Linked DNA regions of Homo sapiens. The protein of the gene in region 1 interacts with the protein of each later gene in a biochemical or structural test. Each region holds a gene or a part of one and is shown in the gene's direction. Other genes may lie near its edges.

Region 1 (7,653 bases):
ATTTAAATAACGTACAAAATACAGTGCTAAATCTCACCTTCCTCCCTTCCCTAGCTGCACCACACAAGTATGAGGTCTTTCAATATATTTTTTGAAGCTGGGTCCTTCAGTCAGCCTTTTCTCAATTCAGGTTTTAGCTAAAGCCAGAGACTCACCTCTAAAAACTTGTTTCAGTCAAAAGTTCACACCAATGGGGACCTTTGTCCATTACTCAGCAGTCAGTGATGCCCAGGTGAGTCATCTTCCCAAACAGATAACAGTTTTGCCCAAGTGGCTGCCACAATGCAGACAAAGGTAAGCTGCTGTTCTCCTTTTCCACTTGACTTTTCTACCTCCAGCTTTTTTTTGGTAGAAGGGATGAAGGTCTCACTCTATTGCCAAGGCTGGAGTGGAGTAGTGTGATCACAGCTCACTGCAATCTCGAACTCCTGGGCTCAAGCAATCCCCCCGCTTCGGCCTCCCCAGTATCTAGGACTACAGGTATGCACCTCCACACCCAGCTCATTTTCTAATTTTATTTTGTTGAGACAGGATCTCAAGATGTTGCCCAGGTTGGTCTCGAATTCCTGGGCTCAAGTGATCCTCCCACTTCAACCTCCCAAAGTTCTGGGACTACAGGTGTGAGCCACTGCACCTGGCCTACCTCCAGCCTTGAGAGTGACCTTCTCCAGAAAGTCTTCCTTGGCCCCTCATTGGGGTTCCCATAGTGCCAATGCCATATTTTATTCATGCATTCACCCTTCAATTAGTAAAAGTCTAATACCTGCCAGGACTTGTTTCAGACAGTGAATGAACAACCAGGCTAGGTCTCTGCTCTCATGGAGCTGTCATTCTAATGGGGAAGGCAGTAAACTGTCAATTTACCATGCAGCATGTCAGGTAGGAAGATACTCTAAGATGAAACATAAAGCAGGGCAAGGAAACAAGAGAGATATTGCTATTTGGGTAGGACAGTCAGGGAGAGTTTGTTGAGGTGATATTTGAGCAGAGACATGAAGAAATGAGAATATGGGCCAGTAGGACGTCTGGGAAGACAGTTCCAGGTGGCAACTTTCTTTGTCAGCAGCAGGGGTCTTGTATTACTCAGTTTATTTACCACTGTTATTAGTCAAATTGTGTCCCCGCAAAAATATCTTGGAGATATGTTGGAGTTCTAACCTCCAGAATATGACCTTCTTTGGAGTCAGGAGCTTATAGAGGTGATCAAGTTAACATGAGGCCAGTAGGAGAAGCCCTAATCCAAAAGGACTAGAGTCCTTGTCAAAAGGGGAACTTTGGACACAGAGATACACATACAGGGGGGCGGGGGGTGGAAAACGTCACATGAAGATGAAGGTGGGGATCAGTGTGATGCATCTACAAGTCAAGGGACACCAAAGATTGCCGGGAAACCACCAAAAGCCAGGAAAGAGACACGGAATAGATTCTCTCTCACGGTCTTCAGAACCAACCCTGCCAACAACTTGGCCTTGTACCTCTAGCCTCCAGAACTGTGAGACAATAATGTTTTGTTGTTTAAAGCTTGATCAGCCTTAAGTTTGTATTAGACTGGTGCAAAAGTAATTACAGTTTTCGCCATTGCTTTCAATGGCAAAAATCACAATTACTTTTGCACCAACCTAAATAGTACTGTGTTATGGCAGCTCTGGGAAATGAATACAACCATTCAGTGCTGTGAGGGCCACAGACAGATCACTTGCTCGCTCACCCAGGTTCACGGGATAAACCCTGGTTATACGGAACTTCTGGGAGCCCTGGGTTACTGTAAGTGCCCCCTAACTGGACTCCCTGTTTCCTGTCTTACTTTCTCTAACCATTCTCCACAGTACTGCCCTGATCTTTCTAAAATCCAAATCTTTCCTATCTCATGGCTTCACAAGCTTTTACCTGCCTCCCAATGTCTTTGGGATACAGCAAAATTTCTCAGCTTGAGGCCACAATGCCCTTGGCATCCGGCCCCAGCATATTTCTCCAACCTTATTTCTCTCATCTTTGCATTCACTCCCTAGCCATACATTTTCTACCCCACTCCTAATGGGACCAAACTTCCATTCATCCTGAGGCCTCCACTTAGTCACCATCTCCACCGGAAAGCCTTCCCAAAGCACCCAGGAGGGGGGTAGGTGTCCCTCCTATGTGCTCTCCAAAGCCCTTTCCTTCAATGCCTTTGTGGCATTTATCACAGTGTGTTCAAGGCCTGTTTGTCAGTTTTCTCCCTGTGACCATGAGTTCCTATCTTGTTTGTATCTCCAGGCACCAAGAAAGCACTTGGCACTTGGAGGACATTCAGTGGACGGATGAGAATAAATGAACAAAGCATGCCATGTTCCAACCAGCTGGTCCCAGAACTATTTTGTTCTCCTTTAAGGGATGGGGGATGGGCAGGTGACCTTTCCAGGGATTTCCCAATAGTAGGTAGAACCACTGGAGCTGGATGGAGCTCCACCTTTCCTTAGTGGTTGCAAGAGGAATTTAGATTAGACATTCAAAAGCTGTTTCTTGTGTCGAAAGACACTTGCAGTACAAAGAAGGGAAAGTAAACAATCCCGCGATTTTTCAGGTTGGGTTTTACCAATATTTTAGAATCTGTTTTTTTATAGGAAGTGGCCCCTTCAGGTATCCAAGCCTCTGATACGGTAAACTGCATGTCCTGACCTACAGGTAAAGGTGGTGGGAGGTTAGGAGAATAGGGAATTGTTGCAACTAACAATGCAATGTGTCATGTGCCCGTATCTCTAAAAAGTAAATATTTTTGAGGTTTAAAAATTATTTGCCTGCACGGTTTGCCGGAGAGCCTGGAAGAGGAAAGAAGACAAGACACAAAGTAACAACATTTACAAAAATATGCCTGACTAGGAAAAGACAGAGGGGTCATAGACGAAAATAATCAGGATTGGGTCTCTTTTGCAAATTCCTGAACGGGGAAATGTATCAGAATTTCCAGTCCTCAAGAAACAGGGCCTTTAAAAGTCTTGTGTGCAAGAAGGGGGAAAAAGACGAGGGGGGGGCGGGGAGGCGGACTCGCTCTTCGCAGCAGGAAGTCTTCAATGGCTATCGAGTTATGAAGAAACAACTGCCCAGAAGTCCTTATTCGGAGCGCTAAACTCGATTTTACCACATAAAGAGCAATGTAAAAGCTCAGAACAGCCCCATCATGGTGTTGGGGAAACAACTCGGCTTCCCCATGTGAGAAAGCCAGAGAGCTCCGACTTGGTAGTAGCCCAGACCTGTGTTAGGGGTTTTATTTGCAAGTCAATGAACCAAACGGGCGACCAGGCTCGTTGTGCCGCGTTGTGGAAGCAAGGTTATTATTATCGCCCATTGCCCCACTGAACAATTTCACTGAAAAGGAAGAGTCCCAGCCGTGTGTGTGCGCGTGGTGCCATACGGGACGTGCAGCTACGTGCCCACCTCCAGAACGACTTTATTTACAAAGCGATTACCACGTTATCTATTTGTTTTCCTTTTCCAGCAAGAGCAGCCTTACTCAGCCCTCAAATTTCTTAATTACAAACCCGTTTGCTTCTAAATCAACCCCAAACCGTCAGGCAGAGCCCGGAGGGAGGCTCTGCAAGTTTGTACACACCCCCACCTCCCGGATCCAGGGCAACAGCAGAAGCAAGTAACTGTGTATGTGCAAAAAGGTGGATCTGGGGACGAGGATCGCTGAGTTTGTTTACAGAGCAGAGACGCCTCAGCTCGGATGCCAAAGCTACCAAGAGCTGCAAACGCAAACTTAGCAGAAGCACACGTACCCCGGGAGCGGCAGGCGGGCCCGAAAGCGCGGACTGGAATTCCAGGGCGCGGGAGCGGGGGTGGCCGGGCCCTCGAGCGCGCTCCGTCCACCTGCAGCGGCTGCCCCTCCCCGCCCCCAGCTCCTGTCCTTGAAAGGAGTGGAGGAAAAAAATGCATCTACAAGCGGTGATCTAGAGTAGGTCTACCCACTGCCCGTATGAAAACACAAAGGCACAGCCTAGGAAGGCGCGCTCAGGAAAGGGCGCATTATTTGTCCGGGTCTTTAAAACCCAACTCGAGGAAGCACAGCCATTCTTCGCTGCCTGTGGAAGCTTTTGCAAAACCGGGGAGGCACAAGGGCACTCTGGAGGGCGGGGGGCGCTGGGCGAGTCCCCTTTTCCCGTAGAGAGCGGGGCAGATCGCTAGGTGAACCGAGTGAGAAAGCTGGGGGTGGGGTAGATCCAGCCTGAGGGGGGCGGTGAGCTCTCCTCGTGGCTATCCCGGCAGGCTCTACCTTCGGGCGGGGCGGCAGGGGAGGATTTTCCCCCTGCCTCGGGGGTGGCTGAGCCAACCTCGCGTTTCTGGGCCGGGAAGAAACCAGAGTCGGGGGGCGACGGGGCGACTGGGCGGCCCCCGGGCCCCGCAGCCTCTGCAGCACGTGCCGCGGGCGGCGGGGACGCGGCTCCGGGACCCGGTCCAGGGTGTTCGCGGTGTTCCGGAATCCGCGTCTTGGCGCCGCCCGCCCTGGAGGCTCTCGCTCCGCCTTTCCGAAATGCCTATATTAACTGTGGCCAAAGCCCTAAGAAACACAGCTCATTGTTGGCAGCTGCCGGGCGGTCCTGCCGAGCTGTGAGGGCAACGGAGGGGAAATAAAAGGGAACGGCTCCGAATCTGCCCCAGCGGCCGCTGCGAGACCTCGGCGCCGACATCGCGACAGCGAAGCGCTTTGCACGCCAGGAAGGTCCCCTCTATGTGCTGCTGAGCCGGTCCTGGACGCGACGAGCCCGCCCTCGGTCTTCGGAGCAGAAATCGCAAAAACGGAAGGTAAGCGCGACGGGCGAAGCTGGCTGGGGCTCTTGCCAGCCCAGTCCTCCGAGGGCAGGGTTTGCCCGGAGGAAGAGCGTGAGGCGAAGCTGGGGAATAACAACAGGATGTGCAACAACAGGATGAGGAGGGCTGATTTAATGCCTGAAGTTCGCAGCAGGGCTACGGGGCACTTCCTTTATTAGGCCACTTCGGGGAGCAAAGGGGGTGTGGGCTCGGGTCCCCCCGCCCGATCGCAGGGGAAGGGGCTGTTTGTGCAGCGTCCGGCTGTGTTATGAGTGGTAGCTCTTCCGTGGTGGCTAGCCCGGGTGCACAGGCTGTTAGTGGGATCTTGGGGGTGGTGGTTCGCAGCCGACGTGCGCCCGGGAATCCTGGGGGGCAGAGGCGAGCAAAAGTGGGGTGCGCTGTGGTGGGCGACACGTGTGGCGCGGGTCTCATTATCTGCCCTTTTCACTTCCAGGACTGGAAATGGCAGACCATATGATGGCCATGAACCACGGGCGCTTCCCCGACGGCACCAATGGGCTGCACCATCACCCTGCCCACCGCATGGGCATGGGGCAGTTCCCGAGCCCCCATCACCACCAGCAGCAGCAGCCCCAGCACGCCTTCAACGCCCTAATGGGCGAGCACATACACTACGGCGCGGGCAACATGAATGCCACGAGCGGCATCAGGCATGCGATGGGGCCGGGGACTGTGAACGGAGGGCACCCCCCGAGCGCGCTGGCCCCCGCGGCCAGGTTTAACAACTCCCAGTTCATGGGTCCCCCGGTGGCCAGCCAGGGAGGCTCCCTGCCGGCCAGCATGCAGCTGCAGAAGCTCAACAACCAGTATTTCAACCATCACCCCTACCCCCACAACCACTACATGCCGGATTTGCACCCTGCTGCAGGCCACCAGATGAACGGGACAAACCAGCACTTCCGAGATTGCAACCCCAAGCACAGCGGCGGCAGCAGCACCCCCGGCGGCTCGGGCGGCAGCAGCACCCCCGGCGGCTCTGGCAGCAGCTCGGGCGGCGGCGCGGGCAGCAGCAACAGCGGCGGCGGCAGCGGCAGCGGCAACATGCCCGCCTCCGTGGCCCACGTCCCCGCTGCAATGCTGCCGCCCAATGTCATAGACACTGATTTCATCGACGAGGAAGTTCTTATGTCCTTGGTGATAGAAATGGGTTTGGACCGCATCAAGGAGCTGCCCGAACTCTGGCTGGGGCAAAACGAGTTTGATTTTATGACGGACTTCGTGTGCAAACAGCAGCCCAGCAGAGTGAGCTGTTGACTCGATCGAAACCCCGGCGAAAGAAATCAAACCCCCAACTTCTTCGGCGTGAATTAAAAGAAACATTCCCTTAGACACAGTATCTCACTTTTCAGATCTTGAAAGGTTTGAGAACTTGGAAACAAAGTAAACTATAAACTTGTACAAATTGGTTTTAAAAAAAATTGCTGCCACTTTTTTTTCCTGTTTTTGTTTCGTTTTTGTAGCCTTGACATTCACCCACCTCCCTTATGTAGTTGAAATATCTAGCTAACTTGGTCTTTTTCGTTGTTTGTTTTTACTCCTTTCCCTCACTTTCTCCAGTGCTCAACTGTTAGATATTAATCTTGGCAAACTGCTTAATCTTGTGGATTTTGTAGATGGTTTCAAATGACTGAACTGCATTCAGATTTACGAGTGAAAGGAAAAATTGCATTAGTTGGTTGCATGAACTTCGAAGGGCAGATATTACTGCACAAACTGCCATCTCGCTTCATTTTTTTAACTATGCATTTGAGTACAGACTAATTTTTAAAATATGCTAAACTGGAAGATTAAACAGATGTGGGCCAAACTGTTCTGGATCAGGAAAGTCATACTGTTCACTTTCAAGTTGGCTGTCCCCCCCGCCGCCCCCCCCACCCCCATATGTACAGATGATAATAGGGTGTGGAATGTCGTCAGTGGCAAACATTTCACAGATTTTTATTTTGTTTCTGTCTTCAACATTTTTGACACTGTGCTAATAGTTATATTCAGTACATGAAAAGATACTACTGTGTTGAAAGCTTTTTAGGAAATTTTGACAGTATTTTTGTACAAAACATTTTTTTGAAAAAATACTTGTTAATTTATTCTATTTTAATTTGCCAATGTCAATAAAAAGTTAAGAAATAACTTGTTTTCTAGAAGTCATTTGGGGGTGGTTGTTCCCTTTGGTGGCTTTTTTCCCCCCGTCTTTGAGTTGAACACTATTGATGAGAGTAAGCATTCCAAAGGATAAATTACAGGACACTAAAACAGGTCATGATGAGCTTAAGCGGAGAGCAGGATTTAACATAATTGGCATAATGCTTCATTGTTATCATTGTAACATGCCTCTTGGTGTGCTTTAATCAAAAGCTGCAAAGTTGTCACTGCTTTTTTTTTTTTCTTAATTGCCATCATATCAAGTGTACTCCAGAGTTAGAAAGGTTTGCAATACTCAACATTATCTTTTTCAATGGGCAGGAGGCAAAAAAAATCAAGTGTTTCTGTTTATACCTGATTCAACTACTTAAATAGAGGTAGATTGGAATAATACACTGATTGATTGATGGGTGGCATTAAATATAAATCTACCTTTATCTCCAGTGATGAGAGTTTTATTTCTCAGCAAAAGTGCCAAGGATAGGTACATATTTTCTAGCGTAATCTCTGAAACAGTGTCTGACTGGTTTATAGTTCTGAGAAAGATGAGGCAGAATTCCACTTTGAGGCTTTTGTCCTATAATATTTAAAATGTACTCAGGTTGACTCAAAGGTCAAATTACAGTCTTTACAAGATGTTCCCTCTTAAGCATGCCCTGTTTTCCTGAATTCTGAGTTTTCCTGTTGCATGCATGGGATGCAAAT
Region 2 (7,759 bases), about 130 Mb from region 1:
TTCGGTTCCCGGGCCAGGGACTGACCGGGAAAGCGGGTTGGGGCTGTTGGGAAAAGCTGGAGCTGATGGCAAGATTGCCGCGGCTATAAATCCATCACTTCCCAGGTCAGCTCTGTGCGGCGCTGGGACTGCAGCTGGCGGAGTGAATTCCTGGGCCAGCGCGCATGCGTCGGCAGGTAGCAACCCAGCTCTTTATGACCAGGTGAGATGTTGGTGAGCAGGTAAAAAAGGAGGATTTGCCTAAGCGATTCCAGGGAGCTGGCCCGACCGAGCCCTCCAGCCCATGCCCGGCGGGGACCAGTCGCCAGGAGCGCAGAGCCGCGATGTCCATACTTGCCAAAATGGGGGACTGGCAGGTACGGGGGGTTTGCCTTGGCTGGGGTTGAGGTGGGCAGGGGTGGAGTAGGGGAGGGGGCCGGAGCGGGGAGGAGGAGAGGAAGCGCCGTGGCCCAGGGCAGGGGAGTCGTAGGTGAGGCGCGCCTGGCAGCGCCCAGGAGAGCTCCCAGGAGACAGCGAAGACAGGAAAAACGGGCGCAGGCAGCGACTGCGGTGCTGGGCGCAAAGCGCGCAGCCCGCGGGGCCCGGCGCCGGGGAAGTCCGGCGCACGCTCCACAGGTGGCCTGGTGGGTCACTTGTGGTTTGTGCTGTGGCCGTTTCCCCCACCCCCCTCCCACCTCAAGTAGAAACTTGGGAGGATGACTAATTCGGAAGGGGGGAGGGAGAAGGCCTGGGGTTGTGGTGCGCGGCGGTGAAGGTTTTCAGCCTGCTGCGCCTGCGGCCTCGCCCTAGACCCCAGGGTTGAGTGTTGGACAGGTTCTGGTGCACCTGTCTCTCTTGGTACCCCCAGATTTCGGGAGATCTAGGATGTGTGAAGAATGGAAAGGGGTCCAGATGGCTGGGTCGCGGAGGCAGCGTGTTTCTGTAGGAGATACAAAGTTTGCCCGAAGTTTAGCTAGCAACTCACTCCACTTCCTGAAATGGGTTTTTGCCGCCTGGGCTACGGATGAGGGAGTGTGAGAATGGTGGGTGAGGAGGCAGGGGGGTGGTGAATTTGCCAAAACCAACGCCTGTGGAACTTGGCCCTGCTAGGCCGCGGACACCACAAGGCATCCAAGGCTTGGCTCCTGTCCTTCCTGAGCCCCGGATTCCGACCCTGGCCAAGGAAGCATTTGTCCAGCTCTCTCCTTCCAACTTCCAGACACTTTCCCTTCGGGAAACAGAGCGGCTCTGGCCAGGATGGTGGCGGTAAAAGGCTCTGCCTGTCGCCGATTTCATCATCAGAACCGCGAGGCCCTGTTTTCGCCCCAACCAAGAGGCCTGGTGAGGGTGAGATTCTGTGTGCCCAAAAGCCCAGGGGACAATTCGAATCTAATGCCCTGAACTTCCCCCCAAAAATCTGAGGCCTTGCTACTCCTGGTCGAGTTCTTTCTCTTGTTTCAGATTTAGGCCATTAAAAGTAAAGTTCTGAGAAGTGCAGTCTTCACTAAGCTACCTGGAGTTGGAGAAAGAAAGGCCTTTTGCGTTCTGTACTTTTTTCCCTTGGATTTATTACTTTTATCAAGAGTGAGCTCTTTTATATTCTTCTCCCTAGTTAAGCCTCACTAAATGGTATTTCATCCGCAAGTTTAGACAAACCTCGTGGTTTAAGGATGCAAATCCCATACCAGAGACAAATCCCGGGAATCCACACCTTTCCCTTCCTGACCCTGTGGGCTAAAGGCCCTTCCTAACTCTCTTATTTGGAGGCTGAAGACTGGGGGAGTCCTTTCGGAGCAGTCTTTGGGTTTTCTCCTCAAATTCCAGTGAATTTCGCTGCAGAATTCCTAGGCCGTGAGAAGGTGCCTGTTGAGTAGGTTTGGCCTGGGACTGGGCCTTCTGTGGGTTCGACTAAGGTTTGAAAGCCGCGAGACTGCCGCAGGAGGAGGAAGGAGGGAGCCGCGGGCCTGGCTCTTGCGGGCTCACAGTTAGGCAAGTGGCTGGAGGCCTGGATCTCGGGTGGGGCGAGCGGATTTGGGGCCCGGAGGGGCCGAATCTGATGGGCTGGGCCTGTTGGGCTCCCGGCTCCCACTGGGCATTGACAATCGGAGAAAAGAGAGTCGTTCTGGCCCCTCACTGTCTCTTTCTCTTTGTGACTCTGTCTCTCACACAAATACTCCCTCTTCCCCGCGACGCCCTTTTTATGCCCCCCACGTCAGGCCTGGATCTCCGACCTCCAACCCCAGGCCTGGCGCTGCTGTCCCGGGGTTCTGGCCCCGCCGGAGCATTGACATGCAATGAAGCGACTTAGCGTGGTAATGACGCTGGCATAAATGCAGCTCGGCTGGCTCCAGAGGCGACCCTGGCGCTCGCCCGGGCCTTTCATCAGCGCCTACACCGGGGGCGGCAGTCCAGAGCCGGCAGGTCCCAATCTGCACCTCAATGGCGCCCTCGGCGGGAATACAACAACAGTTTAGCAGCCCCAGCGGGTGCGGAGCCGGAGATCTGTTGGGCGCGGGGCAGCGGGGAGGTGGAAACGGGGGTTGAAATGGGGTGGCAGAGGATGGAGGGCGGCCTTTCCAAGCCCGCAGAGGGCAAGAAAGCGAAACTTGGAGTTCCCTTAAGCACACCGCGGCGACGTCTACGGAGTGTAAAAACCCATGCTCTCAGGCCTAGGGTTTGGCCTGCTCAGGCTATGGCCGCTGCTGGGAGGGTGTCGGTGCTCCTGGCAGCCCAGATCCTGACTTCAAACCACTGCACTGGCGACAGGCTGGGACAGCCCTGCAGGGTCTAGCCCTGGAAAGTCGACCATTTTCTGGACGGAGGGCGGCGCCAAGCCTCCAGCCCGGTTCAGCCGAGGAATTGTGCTCAGTTCAGGTAGGGCAAGGGAGGCCCAGAGCATGGGGAGGGCTTCCTGGGTCTGTAAGGCCCCTTGCCAGCTCCGGCTTCTCCCTAGCTTTTTGGAGCCTTCTGCCTACTCTGCTAGGTTTGGGGAGTTTGCTGAGGTGTTTGGAGGGAGAATTCCCCTTCTGCAGCCTTGGGTGGAATGGGGAGTTCTCCCAGCTCCTGCCTTCCTTCCACCTGTGAGGGAATGCTCCAATCTGCCACAGTTCCCATCCCCTTTTAGGAACGCCCGGTGGAAATATGGGAGGCCTGGAGATTTTCGAGAAACAAGCCCAGATGAATCAAAGGTCCTTACTAGAGCAACTCTGAGGCGGGACCTAGTGTAGTTAAGGAGTTTGTACATATAGCAGAGAGAAAAGACAGAGGTAACTTTCTTTTGGAGGACAAACGAGGAAGCTCAGCCAGGAAAATTAATTACTCTGTATTTCCTAGTGTCACATTAGGTCCTTTTCTTTTTTTTTTTTCTTACTTAAAAAAAAATCCCAAAACCGAAAGGGATAAAAGCCCCAGAGGACCCAGCAGGCCCCGGTGAGGAGTCCAAAAGCCCGGACTGACCAGTCTGGACGAGTAGGTGGCTCCCAGGCCTCCAGGTTCCGCGGCAGCCGGGCTCTGCCTCGCGAGCACGCCCGCGTTAGTAGCATCACCAAATCATGAAGGAACTCTCCCTGCTTTAATTAAAAAGGGGAATCTTGGGAAAACTAGAGCAGATTAACACAGCTAAAAGTCGGTTCCCGGTGATTTATTTTGATGCACGCACGAGACGGTATCTAGACTTGCAGGCACACACACGTCTGTTTTTAGGCTCAACTTCAGAAGCGGGTGTGCAGTTCCATAGGAGTTCTGTATTCGTGTCCACGTTGCACCCAGGAAACCTTAGCCTGAACACCAATTTGAACTGTCAGTTGGCCCTAGCTTCACACAAACAGGAGAAAAATTGTTTAACCCCTGGAGCTGTCAAGTAACCTCTTCAGGGTACAACTTTTATTTTACACGCTGCAATTAAGGGATTGCAAACCCCAGCAGAGCCACCGGAGCCGCTTGGCAGAATCTCCAACCTGGGGGAAAGCTCAAAGCCAATAAAACTCCCAAGGCGCTGCGGCCCGAGGGGGTGGCTGCCTCGAGCGGAGGCGATCCCTTGTTGGGAAAAAATCCTGGAGTGACTTCGCCGGTCTTGGTTTGGTGGTTATGTTTAATTGCGAAAGGGATAATGATTTCTAATAAAATTGCACGGGGCCAAAAGGGCAGCTCGGATCGTGGTAGCAGGGTTAAGGGAGAAGTGCTAGAAGCTGGGCCCCAGGCGTGGCGCTTGGACCTTGAGCAGTGCCGGGCTTTGCAGAAGGCATCTCTGGAGAAAAGGAAGCGGAGAAAGAAAGGAAGGGGAATGTGGCGGAATTGGGGTAAGAGAGGGGGTGTTGGGGCAGGGCCTCGCGGCGGAGCTCGAGGAAGGTTTTATCAGTTCGCAGGCTGGAGTGCGCTCTAGAAGCAAGTTCGCGGCGTAGAGAGGCCTTTATACCTGTGTCGGAGCGGCCGGCGGCAGATTGTGGTACTGGCGAGCAATTGGACTATTGTTGATATGCTAATGAGGCGATTAGGCTGTTGGTAAAGAGCTGGAAAAGGGAAAAGTTTCTACCATTAGAGGGAGATCTCCGAGCGCACACGGGAGCTCTTTCCCTTCTCTCCTCCTCCTCGCCCTTCTCCTCGCCCTCCTCCTCCTCCTCGCCCTCCTCTTCCTCCTCCTCCTCCTTGCCCTCCTCCTCTCCCTCCTCCTTCTCCTCCTCCACCTCCTCTCCCTCCTCCTCCTCCTCCTGCGCTCACCGCCGGCAGCCAGCACTTTGCGCTCACCCAGAGAGTAGCTCCACTTGGGTGCGAGACCGAGAGGGGCATATCCGTTCACGCCGATCCATGAAAATGCTTTGGAAATTGACGGATAATATCAAGTACGAGGACTGCGAGGTAAGCGCGACGCCGGCTCGATCATCCGTGCGGTCACAGGCTCCGAGCTTGACCCTCCCTCTCCTCCTCCTCTCCTTGCAACCAGCTGCGAAACGCGGGTGGGACAAACTTTCCCCAGCGCAGCGCCCGTCCCTCGGATTCGCCCGAAGAACGCGGGGGAGAAGCTGCAGAGAGAGGACGTGGATGCTCCCTTCTTTGGTTTCCCTACTTTGAAGCTCGTGTCCCACTTTACTCCCCTTTCTGACCAATTTTGGCTGTGCCTAAGAATGGGGGAAAAGAAGAACATGGGCTTTTGAAGCAATTGCTGGCAACTGGGCACTTGCCTGTGCACTCCTCGTGTTATCTTCATCGAGATTGAGGGCCCAAGTCACCAGGAACAGAAAGGAAAGAGAAAACTCTTTTCTCTCTTGAACTTCCTCTCCGATCTTTAATATTCCTTCTTCTTTCTATTCATTCATTCATTCATTCATTCATTCTTTCTTCCCCCCACCCCCACTTCTAAAGCGGTTCCCTTCTCGGCTTTAGAGACGGCCCCCCCACACTTCGCTGTGAGCTGGGCTGCATCTTCCTGTAAGCGGGTTCAACTTAAGACCACTGATCCCAGCTGCGGGGCTCGCTCCAGATCCTCTGTGCTTCACGAAGTTCTAAGTAGCTTCTCCCTCTGAGCTACAGGATCGACGCACCCCACGGGGGTGTGTGGGGGTGGGGTGGGGAGATGTGCTGCGCCGAGCCTGCTGGCCGCTGGGTGCGGGAGCACCAGCTTCTGCACCAGCCCAGAACGACCGTGGGAATCCTTGCGCGGCTGCAGACCACCTCTGGTGCCGCAAGCCCGCTGGGCCGACAGAGCGCGCCGCTTTGGAACCCATTTTAAAACGCAGAGTCCCCTGAGCTCGCCTTCTTGAGGCAGCAAGGGAGACCCTAGCGCGACCTGTCCACCCGCAGGAGGCGCTGGGAACGGTTACAACCAACACTGTAATGAGCAATGAGTCCGAGAGAGGGGTTGGGGTGTGTAGGGCTGGAGATTACCTAAATAAATAGGTGGCAGTCCCAACTTTTGCTGTTTTTTTTTTTTTTCTTTTTTGGCATTTGCAGCTGAGAATGTTAGGCAGGAGGTGTGTGTGCAGGCGCAGGGGCGGAGATCTTGACTTCACTCGAAACCAGAAATTGGGTTTATGTGAACGATGTGTCACCCGCTCCCTCCTCCCTTTTCTTTCTGAAGATTATTTTAAATCGTTCTCCTTTCAGGCCCCCCACCCCGGTAGATGGGGACGGGGTGACATCCCACGGGTACTGGCTCTTCCCTGGGGGGGTCCTGTCGCGCTAGAGGAGGGGCGCAGGGACCCCACGTCAGACCAGTCGCTTTGTTTTCGAGGCTGGGGGCGAGCTTTGCGGGCAGGTAGGAATGAAGCCGAACCCCTCAGTCTCATAGGACAATTCATACTGTACTGGTCTGGGCTTTGGCCGGAGGCTTGGGCATTTCACTTTCGCAGAGGCCGAAACCCAGCTCCAGGTGTGGGCGCCCTCGGCGGGCGGGGTCCGAACCTCCGTGCGGCTCTAGGTGCCGACTGGATGGGGTGGGTGGCTAGGTGGGGGATGAACTTGCACCCCTAGAGGGATCCTGTGGGGGCAAGTGTGAATGCGTGTGTAAGCGAGGCAAAAAAAGATGAGAGAGAGAGGAGAATAAAGTCAAAGCTGTTTCCACAACTTTGGCCGTGGTGGGCAAGCGCCGGAGCGGGGATTTCGGGTTTCGGAGCTGGCTTGGGGCAGTCTGATTGTGCCGGGGCTCTGTAGGGACACGCAGGAGGCGAGGTGCCGCTTGTTCTGACAACCTGGCGGGTAGACTGGCAAAGGCAGCACGCCGGGAGAGCTAGTCGTGTCATCTGGGGGGGCGTCAGGCGGGAGTGGCCCAGCCAGTCGGACGGGTTTTTGCCGGGAGCCGCGAGCCGGTGCCAGCGGCGCCCGGGCTGGGCCGCCTAGCGTCTGTGCGCGCCCCGGCCCGCATCCCGGCTCCCGATCCGGAATCCCCGGCCCCAGAGAGCCGAGGGCAGAGCGACGGTGGCCGGGGAGCGCACGGTGCCCCTGTCCGAGGAAAGCTCAAGAGGAGGCCGAGGAGAGGACCAGTGCAGCGAGCGGGCCGGTCCCGGGCAGGGCGCCGGGTCATGGAGGAGCCGCGCAGCAGCGGGCAGCCGAGTCCCGAGTCCCAGACTCGGCTGCGAAGCGGCGGAGCCCGCGGCCAGACAGGGCCGGGAAGCGCCTGCCGCGCCGAGAGCCCCACGAGCGCCCGGACGCGGTCCCAAGCAGCTCCTACCCGCTACGCACGACCCCCGCTGCATCCCGAGGTCTGCCCCAGCCTTTTAGGTCTGATTGTCCTCGCTCGCTTCCTCTCCCCTTCCCCCTCCCCCGCGGCCTCCCCCTCCGTGCGCTCCGGCTGGGCCCCCTCCCCCTCCCTCCCTCCCTTCCTCCCTCCCTCTTTCCCTCCCTTCCTCCTCTCGGGCTCTCCCTCCTTCCCTCCCTCCCCTCTCCCCACCCGGGGCTCCTCTCCCTCGCCCACACTTTCTTTCTCACACACGCACGCAGACACATTCTCCCTCTCTGCGCTCTCTCCTTCGGTCTCCCTCTCTGCCTCTTTCTCTTTCACTTTTGCATGCCCTGCAACCTTTTAAAATGTTGCCCCTTCCCTGTGATTCGCCAGACGCCGCGCCGCGGCCCCCCGCGCGCTCGCCCGCTCCCTCTCTCGCTCGCTTTTTGTCTCTCGCGCTCCCTCTCCCCACTCCGATTTGCTACACTGAGACTCCCGTCAATGGACTGCATTGAGAGCCGGCTCCGGCGCGAGTTGCCTCTCCGCTTCACGCTCGATTTCCAGGCATTCTTCCCTTATTAAGTATTCGTGTAATATTAATAGTCATGAATATCTGCTATTAGGAGG
Region 3 (7,232 bases), on another chromosome or scaffold:
TCCTTAAGGATCTAGAACTAGAAATACCATTTGACCCAGCCATCCCATTACTGGGTATATACCCAAAGGATTATAAATTATGCTACTATAAAGACACATGCGCACATACGTTTATTGTGGCACTATTCACAATAGCAAAGACTTGGAACCAACCCAAATGTCCATCAATGATAGACTGGATTAAGAAAATGTGGCACATATACACCATGTAATACTATGCAGCCATAAAAAATGATGAGTTCATGTCCTTTGCAGGGACATGGATGAAGCTGGAAACCATCAGTCTTAGCAAACTGTCACAAGGACAGAAAACCAAATACCGCATGTTCTCACTCATAGTTGGGAATTGAACAAAGAGAACACTTGGACACAGGGTGGGGAACGTCACACACTAGGTCCTGTGGTGGGGGTAGGGGACTGGGGGAGGGATAGCATTAGGAGAAATACCTGATGTAAATGATGAGTTGATGGGTGCAGCAAACCAACATGGCACATATATACCTATGTAACAAACTTGCACGTTGTGCACATGTACCGTAGAACTTAAAAGTATTAAAAAAAAACAGTTGCTTATTGCCTAGGGCTCAGATGTTTTCTCTTTGTAGAGATTTTTATCGTAAATAGCTTAGTTTTTCATAATTGCAGGCAATCTGATATTATTTTGAACCTTTTACTTGTTTATTCATTGAGTAGGTGACTGGTATAGTGGTCCCGCAACTGAACTTGATACTGAACCTGATGATGAATGGGTGAAAAATAGGAAAGATGAAAGTCGTGCTTTTCATGAGTGGGATGAAGATGCTGACATTGATGAATCTGGTAAGCTTGTTTGGAATTAAAATTATTACATAGTGTTTTAATAATTGATAATTAAGTACTTATAATTATTAGGTATTAGATTTATGTATTTTGTGTTTTCTAAAGAAACTGGTGTTTCTAAGCCTACTACTTTTTAAAATTTGAAGGAATAATAATGAAATTTTAAATTAATTGAAGTACTTTAAAGAGTGCATAGGATTATTTCTCGTTTTTATATTAAAATCAAAAATCAGAAAATGGTACCTTTTTTCTTATGAAAATAATGTACGTTTATTATAGTGCTTTGTAGTTTACAATGTGATTTTAGCACCACTTCAAGTGATCAGTTGCACAGCATCTATTGAGTCATCTATGGCTTGAGGGAAATAGGATGAAACTGTTGAGTCGACTTACTCGTTTGTAGATAGTCTTAATACTTGCCTAATAAGGTTATTGTAGAATTAAGAAGTAATATACATAAATATTGTTTGTAAATGGTAAGGGATTACAAAAACTAATGTAGCCATTCATTAAACACTGTGGGAGAGTTCAAGGATGGATAAGACTTCATCGCTACTCCAAACAACTCACAAATGAGAGAGAATTTAGAAAACATAATTTTTAATTTAAAGTATATGATGGAAAAATGCTGTCATACTTGTGCAGAGAGATGCTATTTGGAAGTGTGAGGAGGAAAACAAATTCTGTCTTGGATATTCTAGATAATAATTATTAAAAGATGGTAAAATAGTAAAAAATGAACAGATGAGACATTCTTCTAGTTGGTAAAACTGAAACTATAGGAAATTTTATTTATAAAGTTACTTGCTTAAAGTAATTTGGTCTGGCGAAAGAATTAAATGTGGAAAAAAGACACGTGGAAAGTAACAGTGTAAGTATAAAGATTGTTGTATCAGCAGCTAAAGTAGTTTATTTTTATGAAACGCAGATGTGCCACATTTTGATGTAAAGATTCAAAATGTCCTATATAAGGAAAAGGTCTATTCTAGTTTGATAGATTTGGTGATGTGCTTACCTGTGGCAGGCATTGTTTTAGGTATGAAGGATCTAATGGTGAACAAAATGGAAAAAAGCAAAACAAAACTGGCGCTTGTTGAGCTTAAAATTTAGAGACAGGAGGCAAACAATAAATACAGGTAAAATATATTCCATATTAGATGGTGACAAGTGTTGTAGAGAAAAATAAGACAAGGAAAACATGCCAAGAAGAATTTAAAATTGCAGTTTTAAATTGAGCGATTAGTTAAGGTCCTTTGGGAAATTTGAGTAAAGACCTGAAGGAGATGAGATATTTGCTCAGATGTCAACTTAAGGAAGTCTCAGTTTATTCATTCTAGAAAATTAATTCATAATACCCGTGGTAAGAATGTTGAAGGTTCTCACAAATTCAGTGTATTTGTCTCCATACTTGAAGATAGCCAGAGGAAAGACTCAATTTCCTTCATATTGAAAAGGAAAAGTTAACGCTGTAAAGATTGAGCCTTTTTAGATAATATATCTGTTGATTATTAAAGACTAAACTGTCATTTACTTCAGTGCTTTTTTCGGTTTGGCTGCCTTGTCTTTTTACTTGTCCTAAGAAGTTATTGTTTTTCATAGAATGTTTAACTTTCTTAAAGATTTCACAGTTCCAGTTACCTTGATTTAATCATCACACATTGTATACAGGTTCCATAGTATCACATGTACCCCCAAAATATGCATAATTATTGTATATCAATAAAAAATTAAAAATTTAAAATTTTCACAGTAAATAGTATACATTTAGATAGTGAGGGCCACAGAAACAAAAGAATGGTTTGGGAATAAAATTATAGTAGGGCTCACTAAAGTAATTTTTATCTCCTTATATTTTATCTTCGTGTGTGTGTGTGTGCGTGTGTGTGTGTGTGTCTGTGTCTGGCTAAAGGAGGAATTTAGGATAATATCTAAACAAGGAACCATGAGTAACAAATTCTTTTAGTTGATATCCTTTTGTCTGCTATACTTAGTTTTGTTTTAAATGAGACTTCCTTAACTTATTCTGTTAAATCATTTTATGTTTAAAGACATTCAAATTGGTCTTTAGGTAAGAATAATAACAATAGGATCCTGAGAAAGGTAATACAATACAATTATTCATTCTTTTTAGTGTAGTGTGTTTTTTCCTTTTTTCGAATTGGAGTTTATGGTGTTTTCATGGTGGATGTTACAGTAGTACATTCTGTTGTAAACATCCAAGCTTTACAGAAGTTATTAAGTAAAACCAAAAGCCATGCTCATTTTTAGCTTCTTAGAAATTCTAAAGTACCTTCCTTTGCTTGATTCATTATGATCAGGCTAATTTAGTTGAGTTTCAAATCTTTTCTAGCTTTGTGCCCTTTTTAGTTATGTGGAATCAGTGATAGTACGTTTTACTATGGATCATTTTTCTTTTGATATCATATTTTCTTTTCTCTTGAAAACTTTTGCTGTTCTTTTCAGTTTTCACATTTTTTTCCAAAACCTTTTCATTGCCTAAAAATGGGATGGTTTACATAAGAAAGTATAAGGATAGCACAAAGTATGTCATATTTAACAATTTGGTGAGCGCTTGAGTAGCTTAATTATTATCAGTTTATCAAGTTCTTGGACTTTTGAATTCATTTTACAGAAGAGTCTGCGGAGGAATCAATTGCTATCAGCATTGCACAAATGGAAAAACGTTTACTCCATGGCTTAATTCATAACGTTCTACCATATGTTGGTACTTCTGTAAAAACCTTAGTATTAGCATACAGCTCTGCAGTTTCCAGCAAAATGGTATGTTTAAATTAACACTAGTTTGGGTATTAAGAAAAACAGCATGATAAGAGTTTGGTTTGCTCATTCCTGAGTTTAATTAAGGGGAAACAAACCCAAAAATGATTATTGAGTGCCTTCCTATGGGTAGGCATACACTGCTAGGTTACTTATTATTTCATTGCAGTTCTCACAACAATCTTTGTAGCATAATTATCATTACCTATATGTTACAGATGAGGAAACTGACTAGAAGAGGTTAAACATTTTATTCAGTTTCACAGATGTTAAGTGATAAAGCCCAGTTTTATGTGATTTTTTAAATAATATGTAAGGCATGGTAAGATGGGCAAATGAGATGAAATCACTGTTTTATAAAAGTGGATATTACGACTTCCTACATCAGAATCTTGAGTGTTCCTTAAAAATGTAAAAATCCTGGTTTAGTCTCATAACTGCTAAAACAGATACTTGGGCGGGTGCGGTGGCTCATGCCTGTAATCCCAGCACTTTGGGAGACCGAGGTGGGTGGATCATGAGGTCAGGAGTTCAAGACCAGCCTGGCCAATATGGTGAAACCCCATCTCTACTAAAAATGCAAAAATTAGCCAGATGTAGTGGCGTGTGCCTGTAGTCTCAGCTACTCAGGAGGCTGAGGCAGAAGAATCGCTTGAACCCGGAAGGCGGAGGTTGCAGTGAGCCAAGATACTGCCACTGCCCTCCAGCCTGGGTGACAGAGCGAGACTCTGTCTCAAAAAAAAAAAAAAAAAAAAAGAGATTCTCAGGGATTTGAGCCCAGAATATTTTATTATACTTTTTTCAAGTATTCAAGTGATTTTTTTTTATATTCACAAAAGTTTGTGAACTAGATTATGTTTACTAATAGTCATCTGTTACTTAGCTAACTGAAGTTCTGCAGATCTTTACAGTGACAATTTCTTGCCTTTTAGGTTAGGCAGATTTTAGAGCTTTGTCCTAACCTGGAGCATCTGGATCTTACCCAGACTGACATTTCAGATTCTGCATTTGACAGGTTAGTTATTTTAAACAATTTAAATATAATGAAAAACTATTTTATAAGGTTTCATTTATGTAATTGCAGTTTAATCATACTATTATTTTTTACTATCAAATCTCAGTCATGTCTGAGTATAATTTGATAGCACCCTCCAGTTCTTCACTTCTTACTCATAGGTCCCAGCTGATCCAAAAATCCCATCTGTATTATCTTGCAATCTCTGTAGTCCTATATTTTGTCTAGGCCCTTGAGCCCTGCTGTGCAACCATGTAGATTGGTATTATATGTTTTTAAGAAGTTTTAGTTTTAGTTGGGCTCTAAGTGCCATTTGGCAAAGCTCCCTCTTAGATTCTTCACAGTTACTCTGAAATAGTATAGTGTAACTTTCTTCAAGCCACCTTCTTCCCAGAGTATATCTCCTTGACCACCAATTCTCTGTATTATTGCTCACTCCCTCTTTCCCACCCAACTATTTATATCAGCACCTTTTTTCCTGCTGCAGAGGAAGAGGTATACTCTTCTCGGGCTAAAGCTAATGCTCCATCTTCCTAGAGCTTGTTTCTTATGGATCTTCCTCATTAACCGTCGGTTATTCTCTTTCTTTCATGTGTTTGCAGCCTTACTTCTGCTGACTACTTTTAGGATAATAAACTTAAGTCTTCCAATCCTTACGCCTCTCAAATCCTACCCTTCTGTTAGGTTAGGAATACTTTGACTTCCTTATTACTCTCATTGAGTTTTTGTATCCCTAGCATCAAGAATAGTACCTTAACAATAGATAATTCACTAAATACTTAAGTGATTATATTAGATGTCAAATCTTTCTTCTGGTTTTCATCTACATGCATATAGTCAAATGCTTTTGAAAAATTTAACAATATTCATTAATAGTCTTGTCTTTTAATTATAGTTGGTCTTGGCTTGGTTGCTGCCAGAGTCTTCGGCATCTTGATCTGTCTGGTTGTGAGAAAATCACAGATGTGGCCCTAGAGAAGATTTCCAGAGCTCTTGGAATTCTGACATCTCATCAAAGTGGCTTTTTGAAAACATCTACAAGCAAAATTACTTCAACTGCGTGGAAAAATAAAGACATTACCATGCAGTCCACCAAGCAGTATGCCTGTTTGCACGATTTAACTAACAAGGGCATTGGAGAAGAAATAGATAATGAACACCCCTGGACTAAGCCTGTTTCTTCTGAGAATTTCACTTCTCCTTATGTGTGGATGTTAGATGCTGAAGATTTGGCTGATATTGAAGATACTGTGGAATGGAGACATAGAAATGTTGAAAGTCTTTGTGTAATGGAAACAGCATCCAACTTTAGTTGTTCCACCTCTGGTTGTTTTAGTAAGGACATTGTTGGACTAAGGACTAGTGTCTGTTGGCAGCAGCATTGTGCTTCTCCAGCCTTTGCGTATTGTGGTCACTCATTTTGTTGTACAGGAACAGCTTTAAGAACTATGTCATCACTCCCAGAATCTTCTGCAATGTGTAGAAAAGCAGCAAGGACTAGATTGCCTAGGGGAAAAGACTTAATTTACTTTGGGAGTGAAAAATCTGATCAAGAGACTGGACGTGTACTTCTGTTTCTCAGTTTATCTGGATGTTATCAGATCACAGACCATGGTCTCAGGTGAGTTATCAGTTCCAGAATATTAAGAAATAGACGTGTTCTCATTTCCAAATGGAATATAAAAATTTTGATCTAAGTCATTCTTTTCAGTTGATTTACTTAGCAAAAAGGATTAACCAAGATCTGCCCTACTTCAGAGTTTTGGAGCAGTGTAACTTCTGTTATCAGTATGAAGTTTCATTTCTGTCAGTTCAAATCCATTGTGATGTATGGAAGAACATAAATTCTAAAGTTTAATAAATACTTAGTAAATGGCTACATCACATATTTTAAGGTACTTTAGTGGATGAAGAAGGTACAATTTTTACTCTCAAGAACATGTAACAAGAAAATATGCATATTCTGTTGCTGTGTATTATTTCTGTATGTTATAGTTTTATACTGAGGGTTTTGGAAAACGTAGGCTGTCCCTGGAAGTCATTTAGTCTGACTACACGGCTGTTAAGTGTTTACAAAAGCCAAAGCTGAGCTAGAGTTTCATATGTAGCTAGAGTTTAGAAATTTTGGTCTTTGATCATGATCAGCTTACCTTCTGTTGCTTTTTTAAGTCATAAAGAGAACATGTGGAAGAAGTTCTACATTTTCTTTTCTGTTTTTTTTTTTAATAAGCATAATCTTCAGCAGATTAAACCGACTTTTTTTTTTTTTTTTAACCTCCTAGAGGAAAGAAGGGCTGAAGGTGACACATGTGTCAGCCCAGACAGGTAGCTCTTTTCAGCAGCTAGGTTCTATATGTTTTATAGGACCCACCTCAAGATTTGTTAGGTTACGAGTATGCACTGTTGGAGAAAATACCATGGTGCACTGACTTGGGAGCATGGCAGACTTGATGTAGATTGATTTTGCTTTTTTCTGTATGACTGGCTTTGTGCAAAATACTTAACCTTATACTTTGAGGCTTATGTAAGAGGAATATATATAAGGCATCTAACAATGATACACAATAGATTTTCAATAAGTGGAAACTGATGTGCAGTAATCGATTATCTTTGACATGAG
Region 4 (7,601 bases), on another chromosome or scaffold:
CAAACAGGAGACAGAGGTTAGAGAGAAGGGGAAAGTGCAGGAAGCATATCCCACTGGGGGTTTCCTGGGGGCATGCATGCTACTCTGGAGATGGACTTTTGCATGTTGGTGGCTTTGTTCAGTCCCTGCCACTCTAACCAGAATTGGGATTGTGACAGTCCAGGAGTGTCCCCTCCCTTTACAAAATGTAAACCTCCAGGATTCTGGAAGGTTTAAATTGGTAACATCTCTAACAGCAGCCTCAGTGCAGAGGGGACACACACACACACACACACACACACACACTTCCCTGAGCATTCCCACTTTGGTAAGGAAGGAGTATAATTTGCTGAATGGTGCAAGCAAGCCAGGAGGACAGAAGATGTTACACTTTACTCAGGGAACAGAGGCGGGCAACTGGCCCTGTGACTGCAGCCAACAGCTTTAAGAACACAGTCCTTTCTGCTTCAAGGTTAGGGAGACGTTCTCGCCTCTTTCTTCTTTGCAGTTATTATTCAAGAGGCTTCCCCCGACCCCAGTCCCCAGCACCATCCTCAGAGCTTCAGACCATACATTGACAGTGAGCAAAGGGGGCCCCAGGCAGGCGGGTCTGGGGCCAAGGAGGGCGGCTCCCCTGCGCGGATCCTTCCCTGGTGGCTCCCAAATCCGGCGTTTTCTCTGCCGCCTCTCCCTCGGGGGAGACTCGGAAAGGCTGCAAAAATCTGGGCGCCCGTTCGCTCGCTTGTCAAGAAGCAAACTGTCTTCACATTCTCCAAGAGCAACATCCCTGCCTAGGAAGAGGAAGGAAGAGGCAAAATAAATAAAACCAGTTAATGTTGTAGTTAACTTGCAAATCAAGTAAATCTGTTGGTGCCGTATTTGAGAAATAAACCATCACAGCGTCACAGCAAACACACACTTCTGAACGTCTTCATTTTGATTTAATGGTATATCAGCGTCAACTATCGCTTCCTCTGCTGGTACACACGGCCTGATGCCGCGGGAGGAGGGTGCCCATGTTTATCACCGAGTGAGATGACTAATTACACCTTGTCAATCACCGGCTATGAAGACATAAAACCAGCGCGCACAATGAAGTAGTTGCCTGCAGCGTCAATTAGTTGGCGATTCTGAGGTTATTGCGTGGCCCTGCTTTGGCCGCCTCTAATAACGGGACAGAGCGCCGGGCACCGCGCACTGATCAATCACCCTCCTTCCGCGGCCGCCCGGCTCCCTCCCCTCTCCCCCGCCGGGTCTGGCCTCACTTTCTCCGGGCGGCTTGCGCTTCCTCCCTCCGCGGCCCCGGCTCCGTGGCGCCGGCAGCCCCGGGAGCCCCGGGAAGTTTGCGCGCGGCAGCTCCGCAGCCGGCAGCCGGGAGCCCCGCAGCCTTCGGGGAGCGCCGGGGCTGGTGGCCCCTTTGTTGGAGGAGGCGTGGAGGGAGCGCTTTTGTTCTGAGTTAGTCACGGTGGCCGGCTGGAGGCTGCTACCTCATTATGCGCCGGGTCTGCTTGTCTGCGAGGAAGCAGATGGTGGGGAGGTAGGCAGCGGCGAGAGTGGCCAGACCTGAATTCCGTTCACCTGTCACCTCCCACAAAAGGCAGGTTCGGGGGACTTAGGCATTCGTTGCCACTTTCTGGGGGAGGGGGAGGTCGAGGGGCCGCCGTTTCCGGCGCCTGCGAAGGTTCCGTACCTGTCGGTGCCCGCTCCCCCCACCCCTTGCCTTTCCCTTGGCTGCAGCTTCTCGCACCGCGTAAATGTCACTCACGTGTCAGGATGTGTGTTTACAGCCTGTTCCTCTGCTTGTTTAGTCTCGGCGGACAGGGCTCAGCGGTTGCGCGACGTTCCCCGCCGCTGGGGGAGATTAGCAAAGTTACCCGCCTCTGGACCCCGGGGCCTGGGCCCCTAGATCCCGCCCCGCGGCGGGAGATGCGTTTGAGCCTTTTACAGACGGAGCGCGTCCCAGCCTGACGCAGAGGGATGAATAGACAAGCGCACCGGGCGGGAATCCCGACTGCCTGTGTATCTGGGGTCGGCCCAGCGTTGGACGTGGGCTGCTGGTCCGAGAGGTGGCGACGGAATCGCGTGCCTATATGTATGGGGGAGTGGAAAGTCGCAGGGTGTGTTTCCACGTTTCTTGAGCAGCCCGCGGCAAGAGTTGCTGAGTACCCCACCCCCCGCCCCCAGATCCTAAGGCAGCCCCTCGAGCTTTCCAAACGTATTGTATCCAGCCCTCCCGAGAGTGGAGTTGCACCAAGGACAAACACTCTAGCGTCATTACAAATTTTTTCTGCCCCTTGGGCGACCTCCAGATGAACCCTGGTGACTCTCAGATTGGATTTTCATTCCTTACTTTCTTTGAAAGAAAGTGCCCCAGATGCGTCAATAAAACATGCCTATGTATTCGTGTAGGCGTCCGCATGCCTGCGCGCCGGCCGTGTGCAGGCGCCGAAGCACACGTCTGTGTGAACACACGGGCACGCGCGTCTTTGGGTTTAGTGGTCCTTCCCTCGCGTTGGGGCATCTGTACACATGCAGAATATACACATATGATTGTAACTTCAAGTTTTTTCAATTATGCAAAACGACCTCGTAGGAGCACTTGCAGTGATTTAAGTAGAATCGCCTGAGCACGCAAGTGCAGGTATAACGTGCAATTTACCATTTTGCAGTTGCATCCTTCTTCCCAGCTCTAGACACTTACACCTGATGCGCATGTGTAAGACCCTAGCTCTTCAGTGGTGCTGGCTGTGATTTTGCCAACAGAGATAAAATTCGTGCTGGCTGTGTTATTGCCAACAGAGATGAACATGTGTATTTGCACACATGAACACAAGTTCATGTGCTTGGGCATTACACGCATACATATATTTGTGCACACATATATTTGTGTGTGAAAGTTACTTACACACGTGAAAAACATGATTTCATGCCTCAACTCTGTACCCTGTGAGGTAAACCGCAGGTCCTGACTATCCCCTTACCTGTCCTGGCAAACAAGTCATTTCAGACTGACACCCGCCTTGTCCCTATTAGACGGAGCCAAACCTGCCTCCGAAGCAGACCCAGATGGGACTCTGTAACCGAAGTGCTTATTCAGTTTTTGTCTACAATCATTTTATTTCCTAAATCCCTCCCCCACCAGACACCTGGGTATTTCCCTCCAGTCCCCAGGAGACTCTAGGGTGAGCCTGAAACCTGGAGGCTGGGGGTAGCAGTTGGGATTTACCCAGCACGCTACTTTGTTGGCCCCTGGGGAGGTGGTGCAGCCAGGCGGGTAAGGAGGACTCGCGCCATCAGCGGGGTCTGAGACATGGTGTGCCCAGTGGGCAGAGAATAGGCCTGTGGTTTTTAAGAACCTCACTGATATCGAATGTGTCTTGGAGTGAGAAAGTTTTTAATGGAAAAGGAGCAAGAGAGAGTAATGAAATAATTTGCTAAGTGCCTACTATGTTCCAGGCATTTTACATCCACAGTCTCTTTCAATCAACACGTCCATGCGGAGGAGAGCTTCTTGTCGCCCATTATAAAGGTCAGAAACAGGCTAAGGGAGGATAAGTCACTGCCTAAGGTTACAGTGCATGTAAATGGCAGAGCTAGGATTCGAACCCTGGCCTTTCTGAGTTCCTAAAGCCATGCTCGCCCCCACTCTTCCAGGCTGGGGAGAGACCGGGAAGAGCGAGAAGCTACACGCTGGGCTGCAGATTGGGCCCTAGCGGGCTTGGAGCGTGGATATGCTGGCTGGCCCCCCTCCCCGGGAGTCACAGCTCTCGCCGGTCTCGCCACTCAGGCTCTGCCGGGTACCCAGGAGGCTTGCACGGCCGCCTGCAGCCCGCTGTGCAGAGCCCGGGCCGAAGGCGGAGCTCGATGGGAAACGGCCGGCCGAAGGCTCTTGCAACTCTGCCACAGGCCTGCCTTCCCGGGCCTCCCAGGCGGGTGCCTGAGGCCGCGGCTCCAGGCCGAGGGGAGACCGCAGTGAGACGAGCATCCCCTTGCTGCGCCTTCTTAGGATAGAGGGTTTAATTTTCCTTTCTGAAGATATCGCAGGAAGCTGTTCGTATCTTAAAAACTCCAAACCCCGCGCTCTCCCTCCTCCCTGCCTCCCCCCCACCCCCGCCCTCCAGCCTCGCCCACCAGCTCCCACCATCTCGACTCTCCTCTGCTCCTCTTGCCTCTCCCCTCCCTCTTGGGTCTCCCGCCTTCCCGGAGCACGCGCTGCCAGGGCCTGGGGCGCCGAGCGGCCAATGGCACGGCGGCAGGACGTGATGTCAGGCGCGGCTGTAGAAAAGGCGCGGAGGCTTGCGCTGGCGCGGACTGCAGAGCCGGGGCTGGGCTAGGCGCGCGCTTGGAGAGCATTGCGCGCGGCTGGGCCCGCGGCCGGCGGCTCCTCCTCCCACTCTGCTCCTCCTCTTTTTTCTCCTCCTCCACCTCCTCCTCCGCCTCCTCCTCCTCCTCTTCCTCCTCCTCTTCAATTCTCCCGGTGGCTCGACTCGGCTCGCAGGCTTCGGAGAAACCCCTACTCCAGTCGCCGACTCAGCGCCCAAGAGGGTCGCCTTGGGCTGGGGGCGCACCCCAGGGAGGGGAGGGGTCCAGGCAGCTGGGCCGCCGCGGACACCTAGCGGCTTCAGGGTGAACCCCGACCGCAGCCGTCGCCGCCTCGGGCAGAGTTTGCGCCCTTGCTTTGCGCCCCGGGCGCTGAAGCCGGGCGGGCGATGCCCGCGGCGTGAAAGCGCCCGCGGCGGGCGCCGACCTCTGTCCTAGTCTCCTGCTCCCCCCGCCCCGCTTGTCCCGTGCCCTTGTGACCCTGGCTTTGGCGCCGTCGCCCAGGCGCCCCGCAATGTAGCTGCCCCTGCGCCTCGGCGGGAGGCGTCCTGCCCCGCGAGCGCCCGGGGCCCGGAGCCCGGCCTGGGGGCTCAGCCGAGCTCGGGCGGGGCCGGGGCCGCGGTGGCGATGCACCGGGCCCGTTAGCGCCAGGAGCGCCAGGCAGCTGAGGCGGGGGGCAAGCCCTCCCTCGGAGGAGCCGCGCCCCCGGCCCCGCCGGTCCCGCCGCGATGCTGTTCCACAGTCTGTCGGGCCCCGAGGTGCACGGGGTCATCGACGAGATGGACCGCAGGGCCAAGAGCGAGGCTCCCGCCATCAGCTCCGCCATCGACCGCGGCGACACCGAGACGGTAGGCGCGCGGCTGTGGGGTCGGGGCTGAGAGCTGGGATGGGGCCGGGCCAGTCAGCGCCTCTGCTCCCCGAAGTTTGGGGAGCGTCCTTCGTGCCGCACGGGACTGGGTGCTGGGGATCCTCGGTCAGAATGCAAGGCCGGTGGCTCCCGGTTCGGGGGAAACCCGGCTGCTGGGACGCAGAAGGGAAACAAGGTTGAAACCGAAATCTCGGCCCTGGGGGTAGAGGAGAGCGTTTCTTCCGAACTGGAAGCGAAGTCCCATCCGCGGCCCGGGGCGGCTCCCTTCTCACCTTGCCCGGTGCCGGGGTCGACAGCCCCGCGCTCTCCTCCACCTCTCGGCTCCGGTTGCTGGCGGCGCCGCGAGCGGCGCCAGGGAAGGGCGAACCAGCTGGGAGCATTGGGGCTCCAGCCGGCTTGGGCCGCTCCCAGCTTTCCGGCAATCGGGGATCCTCCTCAACCCCCAGCGCAGTTTCAGAGGCCGAAGTCTTCGGGGCCAACATTTGTCGTTGATCGCGTCCCCAGACCCTTGACTGGTCAGACTTAGCCAGGCCAGGGCTGGGAGTTCAGGCTCCGGCCTGGCCCTCGCCGAAGGAGACTCCATTTGGATCTCTACACCTGGCTCCGCGGGCCCAGCCCCAAATAGCCAGTTCCTCGCCTCAGGCCTCCCTGGGGGCCAGACGAGCAGACACTGCCCGACCAGCGGGCCCAGAAGTGACCTTTAGGAGGCCGCGGAGGTGGGGAGCACGGGAGAAGCTTCTCTGCTCCGGGAGCAGGAGCAGCGGCGCCAGTGTCCTCCCGGCCTCTGAGCGCTTCTTCGGTTAGACCTTCTCTGCTGGTCAGTTTGGATAGGGAAGTATTTGGGTTGAACCTGTCCTTCACCCACGGACTTTGAGGGTGTCCCTGCACCCCACTTACCTCATCCCCGGACCCAAGAGGGCCCCAGCCCGTGTGGCAGAGGAGCCAGAAGTTGGCTGACTTGTCCTGGCCTTAACCTCTGGTCTAAGGATCCAGGGATCACTGGAGCTGGGGCCCAGGAACTCCGCTGTCTCTCCAAAGAGGATTCTGTGTGGAGGGTGACTTAATGGTCACCTTATCCCCCGGGTGGCTCATTTAAGAAGCAGTTTAGGGAAAGCTCTTGGAGGGCTTGACTGGAGTAGCTGTCCTGGTCCCTAAACACAGCCCGAGCATTTTGGGGGAAAGGACAGGGAGGACTGGAAGGAAGAGAGGTAAGCACCAGAGCCATTTAGGCCAGGAGCCCGGCCTGGGCCCGTGGCTGGCGAGGGCTGCGCAGGCAGGCCTGGGTTCTGAACCGCCCAGAAATGGAAATGGGCCTTTTGGGGTGGGGGGAAGCGCGCCGCATGTCCTGGCAGCCCCCTCCGCGTTCAGGGTAGCCAAGGCCACAGAGGGAGTTGTGGGTGCCGGTTTCCCGGCGGCGGAGGGGCCGCTGGCTGACGCAGGCGCTGCTGTCTTCCGCCTCCCTCCCTTCGCAGACCATGCCGTCCATCAGCAGTGACCGCGCCGCGCTGTGCGCCGGCTGCGGGGGCAAGATCTCGGACCGCTACTACCTGCTGGCGGTGGACAAGCAGTGGCACATGCGCTGCCTCAAGTGCTGCGAGTGCAAGCTCAACCTGGAGTCGGAGCTCACCTGTTTCAGCAAGGACGGTAGCATCTACTGCAAGGAAGACTACTACAGGTAGCCCCCCCACCCAACTGCCCCTCAGGACCCCTCCCCCCAATCTCAGGCACAGTCTTACAGTTTGGCCCTCTCCTTTCCGTTTAGTCCCAGGAGAGGGTTCACTACTCAGGACTCCCCCGCTCCCCCCCCAAGTTCTCCAAGCCACCACAAGTTGGGTGATAACCTTTTAAAGCAGCAATTTGGGGAGCTCTTGGAAAGGTCTACGAAGTAGGAGAACCAGAAAAAAAGCAGAAGCTGCCCTCCTGCTCGGAGCTTAGACCACAAAAAAGCTTGAGTTGGGATCCTTGCTCCCCTCTCTCTTTGAAGTTTCTTGAGTTAATCCGAGGTTATAGAAACAGGCACCCCCAAACCTAGGCAGCCCAAGCTGGAGTGAAACACAGCTGGAAAGAGAGCTGTGGGAGTGGGTGCATTTCCAGGTCTTTTGAGAAAATGGGAATGAAAGGTGGCCAAGATCAAAGAACCAGAATCACTAGTAGACTCCAAGTTCTCTGTTTCTCCTTCTCCCCAGTTTTAGGATTAGGGTCTATGTATATTCTCTCTGTCTCTGTCTCTACGTCTGTGTCTCTCTCTCTTTCCCTGTCTCTGTGTTTCTTCCAAATTATAAAAGTCAGTAGGATTCCCAGGCGCTGGTTTGGAGGGAGGAGTAAAGGTTGAGGAGGGGGTAAGTGGTAAGTGTCTCCCTCCACTCCCAGGTAAAGGCTTTCCTAGGGCTTGCGGAGACTCTGGGTGAAGTAGAAGTCTCTGTAGGCATAAGTG

The links.
Region 2: the proteins of CITED2 (region 1) and TFAP2A form a complex in vitro, tested with the Homo sapiens proteins (2 studies listed by BioGRID, with this or other methods).
Region 3: the proteins of CITED2 (region 1) and FBXL5 form a complex in vitro, tested with the Homo sapiens proteins (one study listed by BioGRID).
Region 4: the proteins of CITED2 (region 1) and LHX2 form a complex in vitro, tested with the Homo sapiens proteins (one study listed by BioGRID).

Annotation. Positions count from the first base shown.
Region 1 is NC_000006.12:139,371,539-139,379,191, reverse strand, and holds CITED2 (cbp/p300-interacting transactivator 2), read left to right. Parts: upstream 1-4,543; 5' UTR 4,544-4,779; intron 4,780-4,829; exon of another isoform or gene 4,830-4,928; intron 4,929-4,978; exon of another isoform or gene 4,979-5,053; coding exon of another isoform or gene 5,054-5,060; intron 5,061-5,239; coding exon of another isoform or gene 5,240-5,247; coding exon 5,248-6,060; 3' UTR 6,061-7,385; downstream 7,386-7,653. UniProt on the Homo sapiens protein: Transcriptional coactivator of the p300/CBP-mediated transcription complex. Acts as a bridge, linking TFAP2 transcription factors and the p300/CBP transcriptional coactivator complex in order to stimulate TFAP2-mediated transcriptional activation.
Region 2 is NC_000006.12:10,412,015-10,419,773, reverse strand, and holds the start of TFAP2A (transcription factor AP-2-alpha), read left to right. Parts: upstream 1-4,699; 5' UTR 4,700-4,782; coding exon 4,783-4,833; exon of another isoform or gene 4,834-5,093; intron 5,094-7,382; exon of another isoform or gene 7,383-7,759.
Region 3 is NC_000004.12:15,624,253-15,631,484, reverse strand, and holds part of FBXL5 (F-box/LRR-repeat protein 5), read left to right. Parts: intron 1-693; coding exon 694-819; intron 820-3,451; coding exon 3,452-3,600; intron 3,601-4,529; coding exon 4,530-4,612; intron 4,613-5,507; coding exon 5,508-6,233; intron 6,234-7,232.
Region 4 is NC_000009.12:124,007,322-124,014,922, forward strand, and holds the start of LHX2 (LIM/homeobox protein Lhx2), read left to right. Parts: upstream 1-4,446; 5' UTR 4,447-5,027; coding exon 5,028-5,147; intron 5,148-6,639; coding exon 6,640-6,842; intron 6,843-7,601. UniProt on the Homo sapiens protein: Acts as a transcriptional activator. Stimulates the promoter of the alpha-glycoprotein gene. Transcriptional regulatory protein involved in the control of cell differentiation in developing lymphoid and neural cell types.